Linked DNA regions of Homo sapiens: all the other regions are linked to region 1. Evidence: fine-mapped expression QTL. A gene starts in region 1. Each other region holds a variant in brackets. All regions are shown on one strand. Distances are from middle to middle.

What was found.
Region 2: its variant is fine-mapped to the expression of C14orf132 in sun-exposed skin (GTEx, PIP above 0.99).
Region 3: its variant is fine-mapped to the expression of C14orf132 in fibroblasts (GTEx, PIP above 0.99).
Region 4: its variant is fine-mapped to the expression of C14orf132 in whole blood (INTERVAL, PIP above 0.99).

Annotation. Positions count from the first base shown.
Region 1 is chr14:96,038,163-96,040,845 of GRCh38, reverse strand. C14orf132 (chromosome 14 open reading frame 132) reads right to left here and starts at 1,484. Exons shown (of 2, transcript NM_001252507.3): 1 at 1,319-1,484. The coding sequence starts at 1,345. RefSeq lists silencers at 1,375-1,424, 1,445-1,634.
Region 2 is chr14:96,094,922-96,097,604 of GRCh38, reverse strand. LOC124903374 (a long non-coding RNA gene) reads right to left here and starts at 1,783. Exons shown (of 2, transcript XR_007064321.1): 1 at 1-1,783. RefSeq lists enhancers at 144-645, 2,095-2,595, 2,596-2,683. The variant G/T (reference allele first, on the strand shown) is at 1,535.
Region 3 is chr14:96,090,338-96,093,020 of GRCh38, reverse strand. C14orf132 (chromosome 14 open reading frame 132) reads right to left here. Exons shown (of 2, transcript NM_001252507.3): 2 at 1-2,683. Among named protein-coding and RNA genes, the nearest start is that of C14orf132, 52 kb to the right of the region's middle. RefSeq lists an enhancer at 679-848. The variant A/G (reference allele first, on the strand shown) is at 1,123.
Region 4 is chr14:96,009,052-96,011,734 of GRCh38, reverse strand. No RefSeq gene overlaps it. Among named protein-coding and RNA genes, the nearest start is that of C14orf132, 29 kb to the left of the region's middle. The variant G/A (reference allele first, on the strand shown) is at 1,062.

The DNA.
Region 1 (2,683 bases):
GTAGCTAAAACCATCATTATCTAAAATGATGTTTACATGACAATTTTTATAAGTATGGATTTAGGCACAGGAGATGTAAAATCAGGCAAAAAAAAAAGGGCCAGCGATACTCAGAAGGGCAATTAGCATCATGGAAAACTTAAGGGGCTGCCGGAGAGCCAGGATCTAGACCCCCAGAACTAACTTGGGGCTTCCGCATCTTTTAAGCCTCCATTTGCAGACTCGCTGTCCACACACAGTCTGGATTTTGCTGTCACTTTTTAAACAGGCTTCCACTACAGGTGAAGCTTGGGGAAAAAGCAAGTGTCCCCTCAAACTTCGTTCCCTGTAAAAGAAAACAGCAGCAGATGGGGTCCCTGCCACACACCCTGGAGACAGAAGGGAGCCTGGGTGGCCTCCCGACCTCTCTGCTCCCACCATAACCAACCAACACAACCAGAGAAGGTGCAAGATGTGGCTTTGGTAGATTGGGACTTACTCTCCCAGGCCAAACGCAGCCCTTCCCTGGAGCCAGCTCTGGGTCTTCTCTAGGGTCACAGACTGATGGAGAAATCCGGGATTTGTCTTTGTTCTGGCTCAAGAGAGTTAAGGCACAGAAATAGAATCATCACCCAAGCTCAGAACTCCAGGGCATTCTGCCGGAGGAAAATTCAAGCTGTGAGAGATTTGTTTTTCCGGCCACTGGGAGCCTGTTTGTGTCGGGGAGGGGGGTGGGGGGGTTCTGGCCGCGCTGGGCACTGGTGGCTCCATCAGACTCTACACAAAGCAAAACAGGACAAACGACCGCGGCGCGTCGACGCTTGGCGGGTCACGGTCACAAAGCGGGTCTCAGAGCCTTCCTCAGGCGGCGGCAAAGGGGGCGCCCGAGGTCACCGGCAAGAGACAGATTACTGGCGCCTCGGGAAAACAGAGTGGGGAAGGGCGAGACTGTGTGCCCATCCACGTTCGCGCGGGTCTGAGCTGGCCCGGCCTTGGAGGGCTCCGGGACCCCAGAAGGGGGACAGCAGTGGGGGATGGGCAGAAGGGGGCGACTCGGGCTGCCCAGGCTCCTCGCAGCCTTCCTGCCAACGAGAGGGGCCCGGGCGGGAACAGCTCGAGCCGCGGGGGTGCGGGGCGCGCAGCCCGCCCCACCCCGGGAGAGCCGCGATCGCCGCCCCCGACGCGTGCACCAAGTGGGGGTGTCCGGCTCGGGACAAAGGACCGGGACGCGGATCGCGGGCGGGCGCCACTGCCCAGCCCCAGCGTGGAGGGCGAGACCGTGGCCCCGAACCTCCCCAAACTTGGCGGCCCGGGGCGCGTGGGGGGGACGCCCCGTTACCTGCGCGGCCATAAAGGAGAGATCCATGGTGTCGCTGCAGCCAGCGCTCGAGTCCTCGCTGCTGCCGCTGCCGCTGCGGGTCAGCCGCCTGCACAGTTGGCGGGGATCGGGCTGAGCAGCGAGCGTCCGGAGACCGCACGGCGCACTCGGCTGTCTCTGGGCTTCTGGCTCCAGATCTCTACTAGGCGGAGGGCCCCGAGCGCGGGGGCGGGCGGGGCGGGGTGGGGCGGGGCTCGGCGGACGGGGCGCCCCTCCACGTGACCACTCCCCGCCCCACCCCCGGGGCGGGGTCCGTCAGAAACCCCAAGCGCTCGCAATCGCCTCCCTTCGTGGGCGGGATGGGGAAACTGAGGCCCGAGGCCGCCCCGCTGGTTGGTGCAAGAACCAGCCTGCAACCCAAGTCCTGAGCTGTTGGCGCCCCGCCCCGTGCAGTTGAACCCAACCCACCCGGGGCTGTGGGCAGCGCTCTCTTGGGGCTGACACGTTATCCCGAGCCTGAGGACCAAGATCGGAGTGACCTGGCTTTCCACGCCAACGCTCCTCCCAGAGTCCGGTGTACTCCCGGCTCGGCATCTGGGCAGAACGAGGTTTAATCCTAGCCCTGCTTTGTTGTGCAGCTTGAGCAAGATAGTGTCTTTGAGCCTAGATTTCCTCATCTGTGAAAAGAGAATACAGAACCGAATAATTAAATGAGATAGGGAATATAGCACGCGGTGTCCTCAATAAATGAGAGCCCTAACATGGCTAATCATCCAATAGAGACGAGGCTGTGAGTGGTGTCTTCGAGGACCGCACGGTGCTCAGGTTGCACAGCGGGTACTCCATGGCTCTCAGCTCAAACCAGTATCGAAAATCATGCAGGTGCCACAGTTCAAGTAAGGGGAACAGAAGAGACGCCCACAGGGGCCCATTGCTCTGTATGTGTGTGTGTGTGTGTGTGTGTGTGTGGTGGACACCACAGACTTGGTGACACGTGGAGGCTTTGCCCTCCGGGGGCTCACTGGGAGGGAACCAGCTGTACTCTAAGGAGTCTCAGTGAGTACGACTGGTCCCTTTGGGTGATGTCTCTTCCAGGTACTTTACACTCATGGTCATCACGAGCCTCTGTGAGGGGCAGCCTGGGACTCCCAGACTTTGTCACAGGCAAGGAAGCTGTGGCACAGGGAGATGGAGGGGTTTGTTCAAGGTCCCCCGGCAGCTGGGGGCCCAGTAGGGACTGTGGCTATGGGAATGGGACCAGAACCTCACTGACCTACAGAAGGCTTTCAGTGTTATCTTTCCTGTAACTTTCCTTTCTTTTCTTTTCCTTCCCTTCCTTTCTCCCTCCTTTTCTTCCTCCTCTTCCTTCTCTCCTTCTCTCCCCTT
Region 2 (2,683 bases), 57 kb before region 1:
CTCACAGCGGTGAGATGGCAGCTGCCAAGACAGGCGCACATCCTCCTGGCTTTCCTTCCAGCAGAGAGACAGGGTCCCCCGTGCAGACTGCTTCCCAGTGCTCGCTTACAAGTCAGGACATCTGTGCTGCCTGCATCTGTCTGGTTGTGTAATCACTCCTGGCCCAGCCACTGGGATCAGGGGGTTGCAAGGTCACCACTGCCCAGGCCAGAGCCAGGCACACACCCTGCACATATCATTGTGACCATGGGGCATTCAGGCTACCAAGCCCAGGAGGGATCGAGTACACAGACTGCGGATTGTGGCTCCCCAAGAGGAAATAGCATGCTTTACCGAAAGGAGTGACAACAGATGCTGAGAGTCCAAGACCAGCATGCACCTGCCCCAGCAGCCATGTCTGACTTCTTGAGATAGGTGCTAGGGTGCTAGGCCCCAGCAGCACCTGCAGGAGCCACACAGGGAGGTGCCTTTCCCACTCAGAAGGCTCCAACGAGGTATAAGGCACCACCTGAGCATTCCCTGTGGGCGGCACTCTCCAGCCAGTGTCACCCTCATGCAGACTTTGGCTGGTTAACCAGGTGTCTTCTGAGACTTAATCTCAGGGGAGAACTGGGTCCTGCTGCCCCAACCATGATCATGACACAGGGACTTCGAGCCTGGACCATGAGTACCGTGGGGGCAGGAGCCAGGGTGTATCCTTGCCTGTCCAGCTCAGAGTAGAGACTCAGTGAAGGAATGGATGAATGAATGAATGAATGAATGAATGATGCTATTTCCAAAAGCACTTCTGGGACAAGACAATACTCTGTAAGAACTGAGTACAAAACTCTCTCTATCCAGAAGCTTGGGGTGGCCAGGCACGTTGTCAGGTCACCTCTCTGAACTGTCACCCTGTCCTGAGACACTGGCACCACCTCTCCCCTGGGGATAGGAGTGCCTTGATCATCCTCTCCAAAACCTCATGCCCCTCCCGCTCCAGCCCCACACTTACTTTCTGTTTCCCCCAACATTTGTCTCCATTCCATAGCGCATTCTTTCACTGTTTCTTTCTTTTGGTTTTTCAGAAAGTAAGGCTTGATCTTTATTTCTTTATTGGCTTCTTGTCTACCTTCCCTTTGCCATCAGCAGGGTGGGGCTTTGTTTTGTTCACTATACACCCTGAGTGTCTAGAACAGTGCCTGGCTCATAGCAGGTGCTCAGTCATTGCTTATTGAATGAACAAGTCGATGAACTTCAGTTTTGTTTTCTAAAAACTGGAGGCTTGTCTCCCTGGCGTTCTGGCCTGGAGTGCTAGGCTGGTTAGGAGGCGCCCCTCAGCCCCGGCGCATTTCAGCTTCTCACTATCATGCAGTTACAACCCATTGTCTTCATCTGATCCTTTGCCTCCCCCCACCCCCCACCACACAAGACAGAGAGTAGGTGCCCTGCCTGGTTGTGCTTGGGGCATGGGAGGGGCCGACACAGATCACCTGTTCAGAGGATGGAAAGCTGGAATGGAAAGTGCTTGCAAACCCTAAGGGCAGTGCGGCTCAGA[G/T]GCCGGTTGCTGTGGTAGTTAATATTATTTGTCTTGCTTGCGAAAGAGGCCTCAGCAGCTGGCGTGTATCAATATTAATCGTGGGGCCATCTCTGCTGCCTGGTAAGGCCAGCACCCTGCGGGAGCCTGAGTCACTGGAAGCCAGATGGAAAATCCCCAGCGAGGGCAGGCTTTGGAGACCATGGGTAGCAGGCAGCTAAATAAACAGGCAGCCCCACCAGAATCACTAAGGGGCCCATCTCAGCCCTAGAAACCCATCCCTCCCCTTCCTCTCCCCCTCCTCCAACCCTAAAGGCTCAGGCAGCTCTGGGGAGCGGATGCAGAGCTTGGCCATTCCAGCAGGCACCGAAGGGAGGCTGCGGTGTTCATCCCTGTCCCCCTCATTAGTTCATTTATGGAAAGCCTGACACTGTTATCCCTGGGCTGGGCACTGGGGAGGACAAAGGGGTGAGCCAGAGGAGGCATTACCCCTCCAAGAGTACACAGCTAATGGGGGACCGGCTCATCCCTAGGGGAGAGGAGCACCCCACTACCCACAGCATAACCAACTCCTGGACAGAGTGAAGAGCTGTGGTTGTTTGAACCTTTATTTCTTTACAGGCCCCACATTACAGATGGACATTCTGCTCCAGGAAAGCTGCCCATACCCTTACAATACCAGGGTTGACTAGGAATAGGCACATTGCATGAGGATGAATGTGTTTACAATCCTGATTGGTAAAACCAAAAATTCAATTAAATCAATTAAATGTTAGCAAGGAGGGTGGGGCAGGAAGTGAGGGACACGCTGTGGCCTGGGCTGGACTGGCTGTAGCTTCTTGAGACACATTCAGCAGCATTGGACCAGGGATGCCTCCTTTTCTTGAAAAACCTTGCTGCTAGCCATTTTTGCTATTTCAGAATGATGCTTATCAGTCTTGAGAACGCAGTCCTTTGGGCCATGTGAAAGCCTCTGCCATCTTTGCAAGGCACACGATTGGGAGGGAGACCCCACCTTATCAGCCACACTGGTGCAGGGCGGAGGTGCCATCCAGCGAGCGAGGGAAGATGCCAGAGGAGCAGGTTCGAGGGGCAAAATCAAGAGCCCCTTCCCAGTTCTCTTGCTGCCTCCCTGCTCCAGAAACTGCAGGCCTCTCTACTTGAGAACCA
Region 3 (2,683 bases), 52 kb before region 1:
AGAGATAGGATGGCCAGCACAGGGTCCCCTGACCTCGGCACTATTGGCATTTTGGGGCTGGATAATTCTTATTTGTGGGGGGCTGCCCTGTGCATTGTAGGATGTTCGGTGGCATCCCTGGCCTCCACCCATGAGATACCAATAGCAGTCCCCACCAAGCTGTGAGAATCAAAAATGTCTCCAGACATTGCTGATGGCCCCCAGCCCTTCCTTGAGAACGACTGGCCTCATGAAAGCCACCACTAAGTCTCCTAGTGAAAACTCGATAGTTAGGTGTCCTGGGCTCAAGACCCCTGTCTCCTGAAAAGCTCCACCTGGCAACACTCTCAAGCCTCTCAGAGATTCATTTTCCTCAAGTTAAAAGGTTGGAAGCTCCCTTCTGCCAGCATATAGAGCCCTTGTCAGAACCATCTGCATTGTTGGGACAACGCTTCGAACGGCAAACGCAGTAATGGTGTGGTTCTTTAAGAAACTGGGAGAAAGACAGCCAGTGAGACAGATACAGGGGACACAGGGGTGTTGCTCAGCCACGTGGATGGGGCTCGGTGTGGAATGGGCTCTGATTCCCCCAATAATCGAGGCCTGCAAATTCCCTGCAAATATGCTGTGCACATCTGTCAGGATTTATTTCCAAGGCAGAATGGGGCTCAAACCTCCTCTTGGGGAGGCAGGAAATCAGCTTGAAAAAGGACCCAAGAGCAGATGACAGCCTTGCCAAATGTCTGGATGGAGCCATCCGGGCAGGCGCGAGGCTGCCGCCACGGTCAAAAGACCAGCATCCAGAATCCCCCGGGGACCGCACCACCTACGCAGCCTCTCCGAGGACCAATGTCCACGTCATTCTCTGCTCTTTTCTATCTTGATAATAAATGCATGACTTCTACAGTGACTCAGAACACATCATACACTTTTATTTCAGAATTTATGGCGTCCATTTTGTGTACTTTTTGGCTCTTCCATTCTGCTTCTGGCAGTAACTGTTTTCTCGCTCCAGGGAGTCTTTGATCGTCTTCAGTCATGAAGATTTGCATTGTTTTGTCCTTTGTCACTTTCCCTCTTCCTCAAAAAGAAACCCAGTAAATGCTCAAGGTCTGAGCTCAGAAGGACGCGCTGGGAATGAGA[A/G]GGTGCTGTGATAATTCTGGTTATCCAGATTTTTCAGAGAGGTCCCTTTTCCTGCTTGGAAGCTGTGGGCTCTGTCCTCTGGGTTCTCAGTACTCAGTTCAACCACCTTCTCCTCCATCCCTCTCCGTGAGTGACCATGGTCAGGGGCCTGTGGAGTGGGCCAGGGTGGGTGGGGCTGGGGCAGGTGAACATAGAACATTCAGGATCTGGCTGTTCCCTTTGGCTCCCTGAGCAGAACTCCCTGGGCCTCCCTGTCATAGCAGCTCAGCCCAACCCTGGCACTTGCTCGGGGACAATCACTGGGCATCTGCCAGGACGAAGCAAAGCGGGCCGATGGCAGCTGCAGGGAGCACAACCCACCTCGGGGCTGGGGCAGGTAATCCCGGGCAAGCCCTTTGCTTCCCACTGAACGCACAACGTGCTGGACCACGGACCCCTGGGCCAGGAGCCCAGACACTTGTCAGCTCTCCACTAATTTTCCACACGGCCTCAGCTGCTCTCCCCGAAAAATTAAAGGTCTCGATTAGATGCTCTCTAAAGCCTCTTATCACTGTGAGGTTCTGGAACTGATAAATCCCTGTGCACTGCCGCCTGCCCCTTTCCTGGACTTACACTTGAATGTGGCAATCTGGCTATAAGCTCTTCAGGACCAAATCTCAACCCCAGCCTCCGAGGCCTCATATCCCGAGATGGTCCATCCCAGGGGGATCACCCTGGTGGGCATGATGCAGGGTGCCTCTAGAGCTGACAGAACTGGGTCTGAATCACAGCTCCTTAGCTGTGAGCGTTCAGCCCTGGCCTCAGTTTTCTCCACAGAAAAATGCGACAGTAATTAACGTGCATCTCTCTGCATCCTCATTCCTGCCCCCAGGGGCAATTTGAGAAGTAAATGAGACACAAATAGAGCAACAAAAAGATGTGCAAAACTGGCACCGGTAAGAATAATAACTGGGAATAATATTACTGCTAATAATGAAGGCAGATGATGCTTCTGAAGAAGGAAAGTGCCATTTGTCTTGCAGGGATCAGGCAGCAGTGCTGACAACAGACAGACTCCACTGAGCCTCTTCGGTCTCCAGGGACCCACTTCAGGAGACGCCAGAGTGGTCTGGCCAGCCTCCAAGCCTTCCAGCTGAACCGGGGCTGGAAAAGCATCTGCTGCCTTTCCAGCGAAATGCTGCTGCCCCTCCTCCCATCCTTTCTCCCTCAGATCCTGGGGGATCTGAAAGGAGCGAGAATCATTTCTCTCTGGGGGGTAGAGTGGAGCAGGGAGTCTTATTTGCCTCTTGACCTTGATTTCATGGGAAAGGGGAAGGACAGCATTGGCTTGGAGTAGGAAGAGCTGCGCCATCATCCTGCCTGGGTCCCTGGAAGCACAAGTCCTCTTAAGACAGGCCTGGCTACAGCGGCGTCTGGCCTCTTCTCAAAGACCTTCAGTGGTGGCCACTCACAACCTCACAAAGCAGTAAGTTGCTCTTTTTTTTTTTCTTTTCTTTTTTTTTTTTTTTGAGACAGAGTCTCGTTCTGTTGCCCAGGCTGGAGTGCAGTGGCACAATCTCAG
Region 4 (2,683 bases), 29 kb after region 1:
TCTGTTGAAAGTTAGAACTAAAGAGTGACAACCTAGAGGAGCTGGTGGAGGAGATTTCTAAACAGCAGTGCTCAAGATATAGCCTGGCTGCTTCTAACAGCCTATGTTCAGATGTGCAAAGAAAGAAATGACTTAAAAGTTGGAATTTTGGAACAGTTGGAAACAGGAAGCAGAGGATAAAAGTTTGGAAAATTTTCAGCCTAGCCATGTGGCAAAGAAAGAAAAAGCTTTTTCAGTAGAGGAATTCAAACAGACTGTGGATCAATCATGTGTTAGAGATATTTGCATAATTGAAAGGGAGCCAAGTGCTAATATCCAAGACAATGAGGAAAAGGCCTCAAAGACATTTTAGAGATCTAAGAGGCAGCCCCTCCCATCACAGGCCTTGAGGCCTAGAAGGACTAAATGGTTTTAAGGGCCAGGCCCAGGGCCTCTATGCCCTGTGCAGTCTTGTGACACTCCTCCCCACATCTGGACTGCTCCAGCTCCAGCCTTGGCTCAAAGGGACCCAGATACAGCTCAGCCTGCTGCCTTGGCATCCTCTATGTCGTGTTTAGCCTTCAGGTGTGCAGAGTGCAAGAGTGAAGAATACTTGGCAGCTTCTGCCTAGATTTCAGAGGCTGTATGAGAAAGCCTGCATACCCAGGCAGAAGTCTGCTGCAGGGGTGGAGCCCCCAGAGAGACCTCTGCTAGGGCATTGCCAAGGGGAAATGTGGGGTTGGAGTCCCCACACAGAGTCCCCAATGGGGTACCACCCAGTGGAGCTGTGGGAAGGGTGCCGCAGCTCTCCAGAAGTGGAAATGGTAGAACCACCAGTAACTTGCAATCTCAGCATGGAAAAGCAGCAGGTACAGAGCTTCCTAAGAGCCCACTCCTTGCTCCAGTGTGCCTGGATGCAGGATATGGAGTCAAAGGAGATTATTCTGGAGCTTTAAGATTTAATGACTGCCCTGTTGGGTTTTGAACTTGCGTGGGGCCTGTAGCCCCTTTCTTTGGCTGATTTCTCCCTTTTGGAATGAGAATGTTTACCAAATGCCTATACCCCCATTATATCTTGGGAG[G/A]AAATAACTTGTTTTGATTTTACAGGCTCATAGGTGGAAGGGACTTGCCTTGTCTCAGATGAGACTTTGGACTTTTGAGTTTACGCCAGAATGAGTTAGGACTTTGGGGGATTATTGGGAAGGTATAATTGTGTTGTTCAATGTGAGAAGGACATGAGATTTTATGGGCCAGGGATAGAATGATAGTTTGAGTATCCATCCTCACTGAAATCTCATATTGAAATGTAATCCCCAATGTTGGAGGTGGGGCCTTGTGGGAAATATTTGGATAATGGGGGCAGATCCTTCATGAATGGCTTCAGCCATCCCTTTGATGATAAGTGAGCTCTTGCTCTGAGTTCACATGAGATCTGGTCGTTTAAAAGTGTGTGGCACCTCCCCCTCTCCATTCTCTCTTTCTTGCTGTTTCTTTCACCATGTGACATGCCTGATTACCCTTTGCCTTCTGCCATGATTGTAAGTTTCCGGAAGCCTCCCTAGAAGCTGAGCAGATGCCAGCACTATGCTTTCTGTAAAGCCTGCAGAACCGTGAACCAATTAAACCTCTTATCTTTATAAATTACCCAGTCTCAGGTATTTCTTTATAGCAATGCAAGAATGGCCTCATACAGTGAGAAAATGCCAAAGTATAAGTGTCTGTACCATTTGCATTCCCAACAGCAAGGTATGAGAGTTCCAGTTGCACCTCATCCTTACCTAAGCTTCCTGTCATCAGGTTTGCTTTTTATAAAGTTATGTTAATTGGTATGTAGCTTTATCTCATTTTGGTCCAAAATTCTATTTTCCTCATGACTAAGGACATTGAGCATCTTTTCATATACTTATTTGTTATCTGTATATCTTCTTTGATAAAAGTTCCCATTTAAATATCTTGTCTATTTTAAAAGTTGTTTGTTTATTGAGTTTTAAAAGTTCTTTATACATTAGAAACAAGTCTTTTACCTGACATGTAATGTCAAACATTTCCTCCCAGTCTGTGGCTGGTCTTTCCATTTTTTAAAGTGTCTTTCAAAGGGCAGAAGTTCTTAATTTTGATTAGGCCCTATTTATCATATTTTCTTTTATGGGTCATGTTTTTGGTGTTGTATTTAAGAAAGCTTTACCTAATTAAGGCTATAAAGATTTTCTCCTATTTTTTTTTCCCAAAAGTATTGTGGTTTTAGGCTTTACATTTAGGCCTGAGATCTATTTTGAGTTAATATTTCTATAGTGGGTAATGCATGCCTTGAGGCATATCCATTTATTTGCCTAGGGATATTCAATTGTCCAAGAACAATTTGTTGAGAAAAACTATCATTTCTCCATTAAGTTGCCTTTGGGACTTTGTCAAAAACCAAATGACCACATGTGTATTGGTCTATTCTAGTCTGTTCCACTAATCTAGATGTTAATCCTTTTCTAATAGCAGATTCTCTTGACTGCCAGCTTTATAGTAAGCCTGAAAATCTGGTAGTGTGAGTCTTCCAATTTTGCTACTTTTCTTACAATTTGTTTTGCCATTCTAGTTATTTTTTAAAATTTCCATAAAAATTTTAGAATTACTTTGCCAATTTCTACAAAAAAGTCCTGCCAGGATTTTTAAATTTATTTTTATTTTTATTTTTTGAGACAGGATCTCATTC